Regions from separate parts of the Homo sapiens genome. Here region 1 is reported to be linked to region 2. Evidence: microRNA targets listed by miRTarBase, many of them from high-throughput screens and not tested one by one. Region 2 holds a microRNA gene; the other region holds the end of a gene's coding sequence.

What was found. Region 2 holds the annotated microRNA hsa-miR-6867-3p (CUCUCCCUCUUUACCCACUAG, at 3,284-3,304, shown strand). A microRNA usually pairs through its seed, bases 2 to 8, with sites in the 3' UTR of a target mRNA and lowers its output. Matches are read on the target gene's strand: a 7mer-m8 pairs with bases 2 to 8, a 7mer-A1 pairs with bases 2 to 7 and ends in A, and an 8mer does both.
Region 1: miRTarBase lists C18orf32 as a target of hsa-miR-6867-3p. Seed matches in the 3' UTR shown: 7mer-A1 at 3,251-3,257 and 7mer-m8 at 4,498-4,504.

Annotation. Positions count from the first base shown.
Region 1 is chr18:49,475,652-49,482,736 of GRCh38, reverse strand. C18orf32 (chromosome 18 open reading frame 32) reads left to right here. Exons shown (of 3, transcript NM_001035005.4): 3 at 327-5,494. The coding sequence ends at 392. RPL17-C18orf32 (RPL17-C18orf32 readthrough) reads left to right here. Exons shown (of 7, transcript NM_001199356.2): 7 at 327-1,559. Among named protein-coding and RNA genes, the nearest start is that of C18orf32, 8.0 kb to the left of the region's middle.
Region 2 is chr17:40,190,360-40,197,527 of GRCh38, forward strand. MIR6867 (microRNA 6867) reads left to right here and starts at 3,238; the gene lies at 3,238-3,304. It overlaps RAPGEFL1 (Rap guanine nucleotide exchange factor like 1), which reads left to right. Exons shown (of 15, transcript NM_016339.6): 7 at 75-172; 8 at 281-403; 9 at 957-1,135; 10 at 1,223-1,313; 11 at 1,854-1,904; 12 at 2,247-2,334; 13 at 2,567-2,631; 14 at 3,004-3,058; 15 at 3,305-5,291. The coding sequence ends at 3,429. RefSeq lists a silencer at 1,123-1,182 and enhancers at 1,303-1,382, 4,084-4,584, 4,209-4,258.

The DNA.
Region 1 (7,085 bases), not on the chromosome of region 2:
TTTTTGTTTTTGTGATGAAGTCTCGCTTTGTCACCAGGCTAGAGTGCAGTGGCATAATCTTGGCTCACCACAACTTCCGTCTCCCAGGTTCAAACGATTCTCCTGCCTCAGCCTCCTGAGTAGCTGGGATTATAGGCACATGCTACCATACCCAGCTAATTTTTGTATTTTTAGTAGGGACGGGGTTTCACCATGTCAGCCAGGATGGTCTCGATCTTCTGACCTCGTGATCTGCCTGCCTCAGCCTCCCAAAGTGCTGGGATTACAGGCATAAGCCACCGCACCCGGCTTGTTATGATAATTTCTAAAATGTTTTTTCATTTTAGGGTGCAGACATGAATGGATTACCAACAAAAGGACCAACAGAAATCTGTGATAAAAAGAAAGACTAAAGAAATTTTCCTAAAGGACCCCATCATTTAAAAAATGGACCTGATAATATGAAGCATCTTCCTTGTAATTGTCTCTGACCTTTTTATCTGAGACCGGAATTCAGGATAGGAGTCTAGATATTTACCTGATACTAATCAGGAAATATATGATATCCGTATTTAAAATGTAGTTAGTTATATTTAATGACCTCATTCCTAAGTTCCTTTTTCGTTAATGTAGCTTTCATTTCTGTTATTGCTGTTTGAATAATATGATTAAATAGAAGGTTTGTGCCAGTAGACATTATGTTACTAAATCAGCACTTTAAAATCTTTGGTTCTCTAATTCATATGAATTTGCTGTTTGCTCTAATTTCTTTGGGCTCTTCTAATTTGAGTGGAGTACAATTTTGTTGTGAAACAGTCCAGTGAAACTGTGCAGGGAAATGAAGGTAGAATTTTGGGAGGTAATAATGATGTGAAACATAAAGATTTAATAATTACTGTCCAACACAGTGGAGCAGCTTGTCCACAAATATAGTAATTACTATTTATTGCTCTAAGGAAGATTAAAAAAAGATAGGGAAAAGGGGGAAACTTCTTTGAAAAATGAAACATCTGTTACATTAATGTCTAATTATAAAATTTTAATCCTTACTGCATTTCTTCTGTTCCTACAAATGTATTAAACATTCAGTTTAACTGGTAGTTCATTTTCTTTTAAAGTCTATTGAAATATTCAAAAGGGAAATTTTTCACCACGTCAGAAGGCAGAATTTGGATGTTGTGATGGCATCTGTGTAGTGGTGGGACAACAATTACTATTGTTGCGTAACAAGACACTCCAAAATTTAGTGGTTTTCAGCAGCAGTGACTCGACTGGGCAGTTCTTTGCTGTTCTGGGCTCACTCATATGGCTGGCTGGGCCTGGGTCTGGACCTGGGCCGCTATGTGATTTTTATCTTGGGCTTTGAAAATTCAGTGTAGGGACCTATAAATATTCAAAGATGATGAGATGCATCCTTATATATTTTTTGTATTCACTCTGAAGCTGGGAAAGATTAAAAGGAACTCCTGCCCTTGGGTCCCTAATGAAGTCTGGGTCCTAACTCAGGCTCTATTAAGTTCTGTGGCTGGTCAAGTCACTGATTTACCTTGGGCTTTATTTGATATAAATCATGTAAATCAGCAGGTCTCAGCTTTTCTGTCCAAAGCCACCTGAGGGATAAGATAAATTCTCATTAGCAAATAAACTTTTTTAAGGTATAAATACTATTATAAAAATAACAGATATTTACAGTACAACAATGCAAGAGGATCCTAAATGAAAAGCGAATGTTTTTTCTCAACTCTCATTCCCTTATTCCAGCTCCACAGAGGTAACCAATTGTTTTTTTGTTGTTGTTGTTGTATGGTTTGTTTTTGTTAGACAGTAGTCTTTTCCTGAACAGTGCTGCTCCTTGTGGAGCAAGGCTAATTCATAGGCAGTGCATCCAGAGTCCGCCCCAGTTGATTTTGTGTGTAACCTTCTAGCAACTTTTTGAAAATTAATTTGTTCTTAAATATGCACATCATTTTTATTTATTTATGTTTTTGAGACAGGGTCTCACTCTGTCACTCAAGCTGGAGTGCAGCAGCATGATCACGGCTCTCTATGGCCTCGACCTGCAGTCCTGAAGTGATCCTCTCACCTTAGCCTCTCAAGTAGCTGGGACTACAGGTGCACACCACCATGCCCAGCTAATGTTTTTTGTAATTTTTTTTATAGAGACAGGGTTTCGTCATGTTGCCTGGGCTGATCTCGATCTCCTGGGCTCAAGCGATCCTCCACTTTGGCTTCCCAAAGTGCTGGGATTACAGGCATGAGCTACTACTGCACCTGGCCCACACATCATCTTTTAAAAATTAAGTAATATTGCAACGTTTCTAATTGTCCCTACTTCTTTGCTCCTCAAAGGTTTTACCTACTGAGCTGTGGGCTTTTTAAATTTATCTCCATATTTATAAATAAATTATAAAAATATAAAAATATAAACATTTTATTTTTTGAGACAGGGTCTCACTGTCACCCAGGTGCTGGAGTGCAGCGGCATCATCATAGCTCACTACAGCCTCCAACTCCTGGGCTCAAGTGATCCTCCCACCTCAGCCTCCTGAATTGCTAGGACTACAGGTGTGTGCCACCACGCCTGGCTAATTTTTTGTAGAGACGGGGTCTTGCTCTGTTGCCCAAGCGAGTCTCAAACTCCTGGCCTCAAAGTGATCCTCTTGCCTCAGCCTCCCAAAGTGTCGGGATTACAGGCATGAGCCACTGCCTGGCTATACTGTTATATTTTGAGCCATCAACTTCAGACATTGTTTCCCATAATGGTTGAGATGCCGCTATCTTACACTGCCTCTGCTCCTCCCACACATCCTCCCAAGTGCTTTTGTAAATTTTGCTTACATCATCAGTGTTCATAGCATGAGTGTGCCAGGTGTCTTTCATTTGCCCCTCCCAAGTCTCTGCTCCCCTCATCCTGCTTTCAGCCCAAGGAAGCTGTATAGACATCAACAGACTTCCCATGTCTCTGGGTTCTGCTGGGTTTGGCCAATAGCGATCCATAGCAGGAGATGGCTGGAGGGAGGAGAATGAAGGCAGAGTGTTTATTCCCTTGGCCCTCTCTCTGCAAGGTCACCTCAGGCCAACTGTTCCTCAGCCAGAAGTCACTGTGCCTCAAGGAACACTCCAGGCAGCCAACTCCACCTGACTTCTTTTATTTTTCCTAACCTGTCCTTCACCCTGCCCTTTTGGGCCCAGGGGTGGTGGTATTTCTGTTACTGGCTCTGGGCTACTGCTTCCTCTCAAGAGTGCTATCTGGCTTGCTGGGACACTGCCTGGGAGAATACTATTGCTCACTGCACAGGTTAATGCACTGTGATTGCGTCCCTTTTAATATACAGGTGGTGTCTTCCTGGAGTGACCAGTTTACCTTCTCCCCATACACCTCTCCTGCCTAGTTGTTGCCTAGACCTGGTGCACACTGCAGTCCTCGGGACTTTCTGTTGCCACCCTCCTGTATTGGACGTCTTGTTTCTGGATTTCCTATCCTCTTCCTTCTTGGTTTATCCCTCATTTTTTCTGTAGCACAGCAGTTTTCTAATTCAATACTTTTAGGAGGTTGAGTATGGATAATTTTGGAAAGTGTCCCCGGGATGATTCCAATTTATTTAAGCCTGTTTTCCAGAGAGCTGCGGGTCTCCTAAGGCCTTTCTCATTTCTAACAAGTCTCCCTCTCTAGAACACTGGTTCCCAGTCGTTGTTTTCATACTAGCAACATTTTAAAAGCAGGATAGGGGTGGCTAGTATGCAATTGCCAACTTTTGATTTTTCCAAGCAGGAGTATATCAAAAAGCTACAATTTATTACCAGTATTTCGTAAAAGACAGTTTGACACCAGAAGAGTGAAAAAGAACATGGGAATAGTGGACAAAAATAGCCATCAGTTTGAATAAGCGTATGAAAAGTGTTAATTTTATGAAAAATTCACTATTTTGTTCATATTTTTCTTATTTTGGAGGCTAATTGTTAAAAGCTTTTATCAGTTATCCATGGGCTGGAGTTGGTAGCCACTGTTTGATACCACACAAATGTTTCTTTGCCCTAAAATATCAACATCTGTCTGTGTAAAGGTCAGGGCTGCCTTTTTAGTAAGAGCTACCCTTTGTTAAACACATTGTACCTGCACTGTTCATGGGTGTTTCACACACACAAACCTACCTGGTCTGCATAAACCTGAAATACAGTCAAGAAAACAGGATCCACCGGAGGCGGTGACTCAAGCCTATAATCCCAGCACTTTGGGAGGCCGAGGTGGGAGGATCACTTGAGGCCGGGAGTTCAAGACCAGCCTGGCCAACATGGTGAAACCCTGTCTCTACTAAAAATACAAAAATTAGTCGGGCATAGTGGTACACACCTGTAATCCCAGCTACTCCAGAGGCTGAGGCATGAGAATCGTTTGAAACCAGGAGGCAGAGGTTGCAGTGAGCTGAAATTGTACCACTGCACTCCAGCCTAGGTGACAGAGCAAGACTGTCTCAAAAGAAAAGAAAAAGAAAAACAGGATCCCAGCCTGGGCAACATAGGGAGACCTCGCCTCCACCAAAAATTAAAAAATTTAGCTAGGCATATGGTGATGTGCACCTGTGGTCCCAGCTACTCTGGAGGCTGAGGTGGGAGGATTGCTTGAACCCAGGAGGTTAAAGGCTACAGTGAGCTGTGATCAAGCCACTGCACTCTAGCTTGGACAACAGAGCAAGACCCTGTCTTAAAAAAAGAAAAAAAGAATAATGGAGTTTAAATATGTAAATGACAAGTCTAAGATTTCAAGGTCATACTTTCATGCTAAGGAGCCATCACAGCTACATATATATATAGTGTATATATATATATAGTGTGTATATATATATAGTGTATATACATATAGTGTATATATATATAGTGTATATATATAGTGTGTATATATATAGTGTGTGTATATATATATATGTGTATATATATATAGTGTGTGTATATATATATATTTTTGTTTGTTTGTTTGTTTTTGGAAGATGGAGTTTCGCTCTTGTTGCCCAGGCTGCAGTGCAATGGTGCAATCTCTGCTCACCACAACCTCCTCCTCCCAGGTTCAAGCGATTCTGCCTCAGCCTCCCAAGTAGCTGGGATTACAGGTGCGTGCTACCACACCCGGCTAATTTTGTACTTTAGTAGAGACGGGGTTTCACCACGTTGGTCAGGCTGGTCTCAAACTCCCAACCTCCAGTGATCTGCCTGCCTTGGCCTCCCAAAGTGCTGGGATCACAGGCATAAGCACTGGGCCCGGCTGCCACAGCTACTAATATCTTAATTGTTAGTAATACCTTATTGGGAATAATTAGGCAGAAATGGAGAGGGTGAGTTTAGATTAATCAGTATGTGTGAACTTGTTTTAAAGTTTCTGGAGGCTGAGGTGAGAGGATCGCTTAAGTCCAGGAGGCGGAAGTTGCAGTGAGCCAAGATCACACCACTGTACTCCAGCCAGGACAACAGAGCAATACCCCGTTTCAAATAAATAATAATAAAGTTAATTTTGCTAACCTTGTATCTTGAGTTTTTAATTTACCTACTTTTCAACAACTTATTTTTGCTTTATGAATTTTAACTGCATTTCCCGTCTCATTTTATGAGTTAGACTCATTTTCTCAGGTAATTACTTGAGGCTAAAACTTGGGTTTCATCACTTTTTTTTTTTTTTTTCCATTACTAGGCTGCCTTCTTAGGAAACATAGGTGACTCAGCACTTCCTTAAAGTGACCATTCAGAACTGGCATGTTGACAGAATGCCTGGATTAAAAAGAAACTCCAACCGCTGATCTTTTCATTTGTTATTATTTTTTAGAGACAGAGTCTCACTCTGTTGCCCAGGCTGGAGTGCAGTGGCGCAATCATAGCTCACTGCAGGCTCAAACTCCTGGGCTGAAGTGATCTTCTTGTCTCAGCCTCCCGAGTAGCTGGGACTACAGGCATGAACCACTGCGCCTGGCGCAGAGACTGATCTTAAGTCTAGTTCAGTCGTAATCAAAGAGGAAATGGAAGTTTTCTTATGGTTTCCTCCACAGGGAGCTACTTGCTTGTTCTAACCTCAAAGCTAAATTTATTGACATGGCGACAGCTCCTTAATAAAGAAGCAAAGACTATGGGTTCTTTGGTTTGAATGTCCGCTCCAAAACTCATGTTGAAATTTAATCCCCAATGTGGCAGTAGTGAGAGGTAGGGCCTTTAAAAGGTAATTGGGTCATGAGGGCCCTGCCCTCATGAATAGATTCATTCACTCATGGATTAATGGATTAGTGGGTTAATAGATTTAACGGGTTATCATAGGAGTAGAACTGGAAGCTTTTATAAGAAGAGGAAAAGGCGCCGGGCACGGTGGCTCACGCCTGTAATCTCAGCACTTTGGGAGGCCGAGGCAGGCGGATTGTCTGAGCTCAGGAGTTCAAGACCAGCCTGGGCAACACGGTGAAACCCCGTCTCTACTAAAATACAAAAAAAAAATCAGCCAGGTGTGGTGGCATGCACCTGTACTGCCAGCTACTCGGGAGGCGGAGGCAGGAGAATTGCTTGAACCCGGGAGGCAGAGGTTGCAGTGAACCTAGATTGCACCAGTGCACTCCAGCCTAGGTGACAGAGTGAGATACCGTCTCAAAAAAAAAAAAAAAAGAGGAAAAGGCTGGGCACCGTGGTTCACGCCTATAATTAAAGCCCTTTGGGAGGCCAAGGAAGGAGGAGTGCTTGAGGCCAGGAGTTTGAAACCAGCCTGGGCAACATAGTGAGACCCTCATCTCTGCAAAACATAAAAATGAAACAATTAGCCTGGCATAGTGGTGCATGCCTGTGGTCCCAGCTACTTGGAAGGCTGAGGCAAGGGGATCACTGGAACCTGGGAATTTGAGGCTGCAGTGAGCTATGATTACGCCACTGCACTTCAGCCTGGGCAATAGAAGGAAACCCTGTCTCAGAATAATAAAATAAATAAAAATTAAAAGACCCTGTCTCAGCAGGGCGCAGTGGCTCATGCCTGTAATCCTAGCACTTTGGGAGGCTGAGGCGGACGGATCACAAGGTCCAGGAAATCGAGACCATCCTGGCCAACACAGTGAAACCCCATCTCTGCTAAAAATACAAAAAAATTA
Region 2 (7,168 bases):
AGGACAGTGTCAGTGTGGGATGTGTGAGGGTGCAGGCGGCAGGGGCCGAGGATGAGCAGCTCTTTCTCCTGCAGAGAAGGTCCTTCTCCAGCCCACTGAGGACTGTGTTTTCACCGCACTGGGCATCAACAGCCACCTGTTTGCCTGTACTCGGGACAGCTATGAGGCTCTGGTAAGAACTTCCCAAGGCCTTGACTGGAATGGAGGGCTGAGGAGGGCTGTGAGCAATCCCTCACCCTGCCACCAGGAGCCCAGCCCCTATGCCCCTGCCTGCCACCAGGTGCCCCTCCCCGAGGAGATCCAGGTCTCCCCTGGAGACACAGAGATCCACCGAGTGGAGCCTGAGGACGTTGCCAACCACCTAACTGCCTTCCACTGGGAGCTGTTCCGATGTGTGCATGAGGTGGGGACCGAGGCTGGTGCTATGCTGGGGGGCTGGAGGGAGAAATGTGCCATTGGGAGACGGTGTTCGCAGCACAACGTCCTGGTTCCAAGGCTCACTTGCAGCAAGCCCTTGGGCAACGCATGGCCGTAACCTTTGTTCCCCCATCTGAAAAAAATCGCAAAGAGAGAGACCCCAGAGCACAGTGGCTCAGGGCCCAAGTGCTGTTTACACAGAACCTGACCCAGGATTTCTATTTTTAAAATATTCACTATTAAAGAAATAAAATAAGGCAGAGACAATAATGCCTAGCAGATGGTTGTCTTGAGGATGTCAGCCGTGAGCGAATGCCTGGCACCTAGTAAGTGCTCAGTAGCTGGTGAAATATTATTAATGCTGGTTGTTTTCTTTTTCCGCATCTTTGCCGCCTCCTGTCCTTTCTATTTTTCTATTTTCCACCCCTTCCGCCCCCGCCCTCCTGCCTTTCGCTCCTCATCGCCTTGCACTGCCATCTTCCCACCCACTCCCCTCACCCCCTGGCGCCCTGGCCGCCCCTCCGCTGCCGTGGGTGCAGCTGGAGTTCGTGGACTACGTGTTCCACGGGGAGCGCGGCCGCCGGGAGACGGCCAACTTGGAGCTGCTGCTGCAGCGCTGCAGCGAGGTCACGCACTGGGTGGCCACCGAAGTGCTGCTCTGCGAGGCCCCGGGCAAGCGCGCGCAGCTGCTCAAGAAGTTCATCAAGATCGCGGCCCTGTGAGTGCGGCCGTCGGCGGGATGGGGGGCCGGAGGCCGGAGGCCCGCGCCGCCGCCCGCCCCTGACCCCGCCTCCCACCCCCGCAGCTGCAAGCAGAACCAGGACCTGCTGTCTTTCTACGCCGTGGTCATGGGGCTGGACAACGCCGCTGTCAGCCGCCTTCGACTCACCTGGGAGGTGATGAGACCCCTCCCGTTCCTACCTGGGAATCTGGGCATCCCGGGCTCCCCGAAGTGCGTCCTCCCGGGACGGCCGCCGGCCTGGAGGGAGTCTTTGCGCCAGTTGGAGGGAGGCGCCCTCTTCTGGCATACGCAACCCCAGGGCGCACAGCTTGGCTAATGGACCCTGTCTTTGTGCAAATTAGTGAAAAGCCCGGATCCCGCCTGAGTCACGGCAGGCAGCCCTTGGCCAGGTCAGGTCGCAGACTTGGCTGTGGGAGTTGGGCTGATTTTCATCCACACTCAGTGGGGGCATCTTTATACAAAGCACCTGCATAAGACAGACCTGGCCTTCCCCAGAATAATGAATTCCTCTGGGCTGTTTCAAGCCTCTAGACTTAGCCAAGGCCTGACTTCATTTCCCCACCCACCAGCTTCCCAGCCCCCTACAAGCCATGCAGGCCCTTTTGCCCTCCAACAGGGAGAATTAATCCGAGGCTCCCATGTAACCCAAGGAGCTCCACTCTGATATCCCTTCTCCTTCCTTCAAACTCTGCAGAAGCTGCCAGGGAAATTCAAGAACTTGTTTCGCAAATTTGAGAACCTGACGGTGAGTGGGTTTGGCTCTTTCTTCTGCTCTTGGACTGAGAGCCCAGAAACCCTCTGTTCCCATAAACCCCCTTCCTCAAGCTTTCCTTTCAAGGTGTTTAGTGTATGGGACCCCCCACCCTCCTTACCATGCTGGAGGGTGAGGTTGGAAGGATTGCGCCCCTGTTTTTCTTGAAGGAAAGGGGGAGTAGTCAGGTCCCTCCCCACCACACCATTAGAAAGCCCCCAGCACCCCTATCTGATCAGGAATGTATACAAGGCAGGGGGTGAGGGAGGAAGCTGAGGACATCTTTGGGATGCATTGGCCAGTCTGTCCCTTGATCTCTCTCCTGTGGAATACTAGGACCCCTGCAGGAACCACAAAAGCTACCGAGAAGTGATCTCCAAAATGAAGCCCCCTGTGATTCCCTTCGTGCCTCTGATCCTCAAAGGTGAGAGAGTTACTCCCAAGCTGTGCCGCTTCCACCCATGCTTCCCTTCTCCTATGCCCTGCTTCTGACTTCCAGCTCCCTCTCGACTCAGCCCTGAGTACCCACCTGGAGAGGAGCCCCCCACCACAGACGGAGTGGGTTCTGGGGAAGAGCGGGGTCCTCGGGTGCAGTGGCCCCTTTCGAACTCCTCTCTTATCCTTTCCTCACATTGGATTCTCTCCACATCCCCTAGACCTGACTTTCCTGCACGAAGGGAGTAAGACCCTTGTAGATGGTTTGGTGAACATCGAGAAGCTGGTGAGTGAGTGGCACTGCAAACCCCTAGTCCCACAAGTGGGGGGCTTGCATCCTCTCCCTCTCTCATCACCTCCCAAAAATAGCAGCCTTCCTCCAAGTGCCCAGCTTGCCTAACAGACTCTTGACTGTCTCCCTGGTGGCATCACTGTGGCAACCCACCCACAGGTGGCAGAGCTGACAGGCAGCTTGGGGGCAACTTCACCTCCCCCTCACATGGCACTCTGTTACACCCACTCCTTTGGTCCTTCAGAGACCCTCCAGAATTGGAGACTGGAGGGAGTAAAGCAGAGTGGGAGAATGGCGGAGGGGGAGCATAAGAGGGGGAGCCTCTTTCTGTGCCCCTTTCAAGGCTCATTCCTTGTCATCTCCCAGCATTCAGTGGCCGAAAAAGTGAGGACAATCCGCAAATACCGGAGCCGGCCCCTTTGTGAGTACCCAGGGTACTGAGAGCAGTACAGATAGAGCTTTGACTGAACGGGAGGGTTCAGGGGAGAACTCCCTGTCCAGATGTGTATTTCCATACACTTGCTGGTTCCCCATTCTCTCCTTGCCTCTGCAGAGGCCTTCCTGCCCAACATCTGTCTCAGTCCACAGCCTGATCTTCTGCCCGGTGTGTGTGTAGAGGAAGAAGGGAAGCTGGGAACCTGACTGCCTCTCCCTCTTTACCCACTAGGCCTGGACATGGAGGCATCCCCCAATCACCTGCAGACCAAGGCCTATGTGCGCCAGTTTCAGGTCATCGACAACCAGAACCTCCTCTTCGAGCTCTCCTACAAGCTGGAGGCAAACAGTCAGTGAGAGTGGAGGCTCCAGTCAGACCCGCCAGATCCTTGGGCACCTGGCACTCAAGCACTTTGCACGATGTCTCAACCAACATCTGACATCTTTCCCGTGGAGCAACTTCCTGCTCCACGGGAAAGAGGTCGATGGATTTACCCCTGGACCCATAAGTCTGTTCATCCTGCTGAAGTCCCCTCCCCATTGCTCCTTCAAGCCAAAACTACACTTTGCTGGTTCCTGTCCCCTCTGAGAAAGGGGATAGAAAGCTCCTTCCTCTATGTCCTCCCATCGAGATCTGTTCTGGGGATGGAGCTTCCAACTTCCTCTTGCAGCAGGAAAGAATGCTGCTCACCCTTCTGTCTTGCAGAGTGGGATTGTGGGAGGGATTGGCAGCCTTCTTCTCCACCACCTGTCCAGCTTCTTCCTGGTCAGGGCTGGGACCCCCAGGAATATTATGTTGCCGTGTGTGTGTGTGTGTGTGTGTGTGTGTGTGTGTGTGTGTGTGTGTGTGTGTGTGTGTCTTCTTTTAGGGAGCAGGAGTGCATCTGGTAATTGAGGGTGGATGTTGTGTGTGCTGGGGAGGGGTCCTTCTGTTTGGTGCTACCCTTGTCTACTCTGCCCCTGGATGGTGCGGGGTGCTTTCTCCACCCCCACACTCCCTGCTCAGCTCCTCGTGCTGCCCTGCATGCCCAGGCTTGTGAGCCAAGCTGCTTTTTGGGGCAGGGAGTAGCAGCAGGTGGGAGGGGTTACCCATCAGCCCTTGCAAGTCCCCCACTCAGGCCTCTGGAAGGTCCAGGGATGGGCTCTGATGAGAGGGTAAAAGATGCTCAGGGAAACACAGGCCTCAGCTGCCTAGAGGACCCTCCCCCTGCCTTGCAGTGGGCTCGGGTAGAGCAGTATCAGGAGCTAGGGTTGTCTGCTGCCCACACTCCTGCTTTTTGGGATATCTAACTGCTAAGGAGGGAGTTGACATCCCCCTTCTGGCTCATGTGTCTGACACCAACAACATGGTCTCTGTCCCTCTCTCTTTGACTCTCCCTTTGTCCTCCCCATAGAGCTGGGGTGGGGTGGATCCCTATACCTGGGGCAGGCAGCCCCAAAGTGGGGGAGGGGGATGGCAGAGACTGTAAAGGCGCCACTGGACTCTGGCAAGGCCTTTATTACCTTTACTCCCCTCCCTCTCCCATCACCAGCCTCAAGGCCTGAGGGGTGCAGGGGCTCCTGGCAGCTACTGGGTGAGGTTTCCTGGCACAGACTCACCCTTCTTTCTGGCACCACCTCTTTCCCTTTTGAAGAGACAGCAACAGCCGTAGCAAAAGCAGCTGCTGCTCCTGCTATGAGGGTGTATATATTTTTTACCCAAAGCTCTGGAATTGTACATTTATTTTTTAAAACTCAAAGAGGGAAAGAGCCTTGTATCATATGTGAACATTGTATCATAGGTAATGTTGTACAGACCCTTTTATACAGTGATCTGTCTTGTTCCTGCAGCAAAAATCCTCTATGGACATAGGAGGTGCTGTGTCCCATGCCCTCTTGCCCTGACAGTGTCCCATGGGCCCCCTTCTGCTCCCTGCCCCCTCCCTGCTACTGCTGATGCACTCTCCTCTCCCTGCAGCCCCTGGCTTCCCAGCCTTCCTCCTGACCCCTTCCAACAGCCTTGGAACTCCAGCTGCCACCACCCTCTGGGTCGGACACTGGGACCCACTGGCCCAGTCTTGGCTGCTGCTTACCCCTAGCCTTGATGCCTGCCCAGGGACCCCCAGCCCCCTCCCGTTGCCCTGCAGCTTTAACAGAGTGAACCATGTGTATTGTACAGGCGCGGTTGTCATTGCAGAAACCGCTGGGTGGAGAAGAAGCCGATAAAGTCTATGAATCAACCTGCCTGTTGTTCTCCATTCTGTTTTCTTTGAGGCTGTGGAAGTGCTGAGGGAGGGGAGAGGGGATGGCCGCCCAGTGCTGTCAGGAGCAGGGCTGTTCTGGAGTGACTTTGAAAATGTGGGTGGCGGGGTACAGTGGCTCATGCTTGTAATCCCAGCACTTTGGGAGGCCGAGGCGGGCAGATCACCTGAGGGCGGGAGTTCGAGACCAGCCTGGCCAACATGGTGAAACCCTGTCTCTACTAAAAATACAAAAATTAGCCAGGTGTGGTGGTGCATGCCTGTAATCCCAGCTACTTGGGAGGCTGAGTCAGGAGAGTAGCTTGAACTCAGGAGGCGGAGGTTGCAAGGCGCAGTGGCTCTCCAGCCTGGGCAACAGAGCAAGACTCTGCCAAAAAAGAAAATGTGGATGAGAGGAAAAGATGCCAACCTCACAAGACATGTCACATAATGCCTGGAACTCAGAAGAGGGGATGGGATGTTTTCGTTCATACATGTTCCAGGTGGCATAAATATGAGATCACATTTAATTCTAATGCTAAGGTAGAAGATTGAGGCACAGCAGTCCCAGAATAATTACTAGTGAGGGCACTGGTCCCCTAACCCAGGTCTGTCCCCTGAAGACAGCATGTACTGTTCACACAACCAATATTTACCAGTTCTACTAAGTTTTGTTTTGTTTTGTTTTTTTTGAGACGGAGTCTTGCTCTGTTGCCCAGGCTGGAGTGCAGTGGCGTGATGTCTGCTCACTGCAAGCTCTGCCTCCCAGGTTCATGCCATTCTCCTGCCTCAGCCTCCCAAGTAGCTGGGACTACAGGTGCCCACCACCATGCCGGGCTAATTTTTTTTTTAATATTTTTAGTAGAGATGAGGTTTCACTGTGTTAGCCAGGATGGTCTGGATCTCCTGACCTCGTGATCTGCCCACCTCGGCCTCCCAAAGTGCTGGGATTACAGGCTTGAGCCACTGCGCCTGGCCCAATCCTACTAAGATTATAGGGTGCAGAGAGCCTAGCGTTAGGCTTAAATGATAGCCTGAGTTCCAGGAGACATCATACACTCAAATAGCTATACCTGGGCCCTTGATAATCCCCATTCACATCTGTTTCTGCCTCAGTCTTCTGCATCTCAGAAAAATGATCCTCTCATCCACCCAGGTTTTCTCTCTCTGTTGCCCAAGCTGGAGTGCAGTGGCGTAATCTTGGCTCACTGCAACCTCTGCCTCCCAGGTTCAAGTGATCCTCCTGCCTCAGCCTCCTGAGTAGCTGGGATTATAGGCAGAGGCCACCACACCCGGCTAATTTTTGTATTTTTAGTAGAGATGGGGTTTCACCATGTTGGTCAGGTTGGTCTCAAACTCCTGACCTCAAGTGATCCACCCACCTCAGTCTTCCAAAGTGCTGGGATTACAGCTGTGAGCCACTGCCCAGCCACCTACCCAAGTTTTCAAGGCAAAAATACAGGACTCACCATTGGTGCCTCTTTCTCCCACCCTTCATTCATCTCAGCCAGTCCCATCGGCTACAATTCCAGAGCATTTTCTGAGTGATCCACTTCTGTATGACTCCCCTATGACCATACTAGTCCAAACCACCTTCATAGCTTCCCTGCATGACTACTGCAGCCTCCTACCTGGTCTGTCAGCTTCCTCTCTTTGATCCACCCCTACCTGCCACCAGTTTGATTTCCACATGGCAGCCAGGGTGTTCTTTCAGAAACACCAATCACGCTGGGCATGGTGGCTCAAGCCCATAATCCTAGCACTTCGGGAGGCTGAGGCAGGAGGATCGCTTGAGCCCAGGAGTTCAAGACCAGCTTGGGCAACATAGTGAGACCCTGTCTCTACAAAAAATAAAAAATTAACGAGGCTGCAGTGAG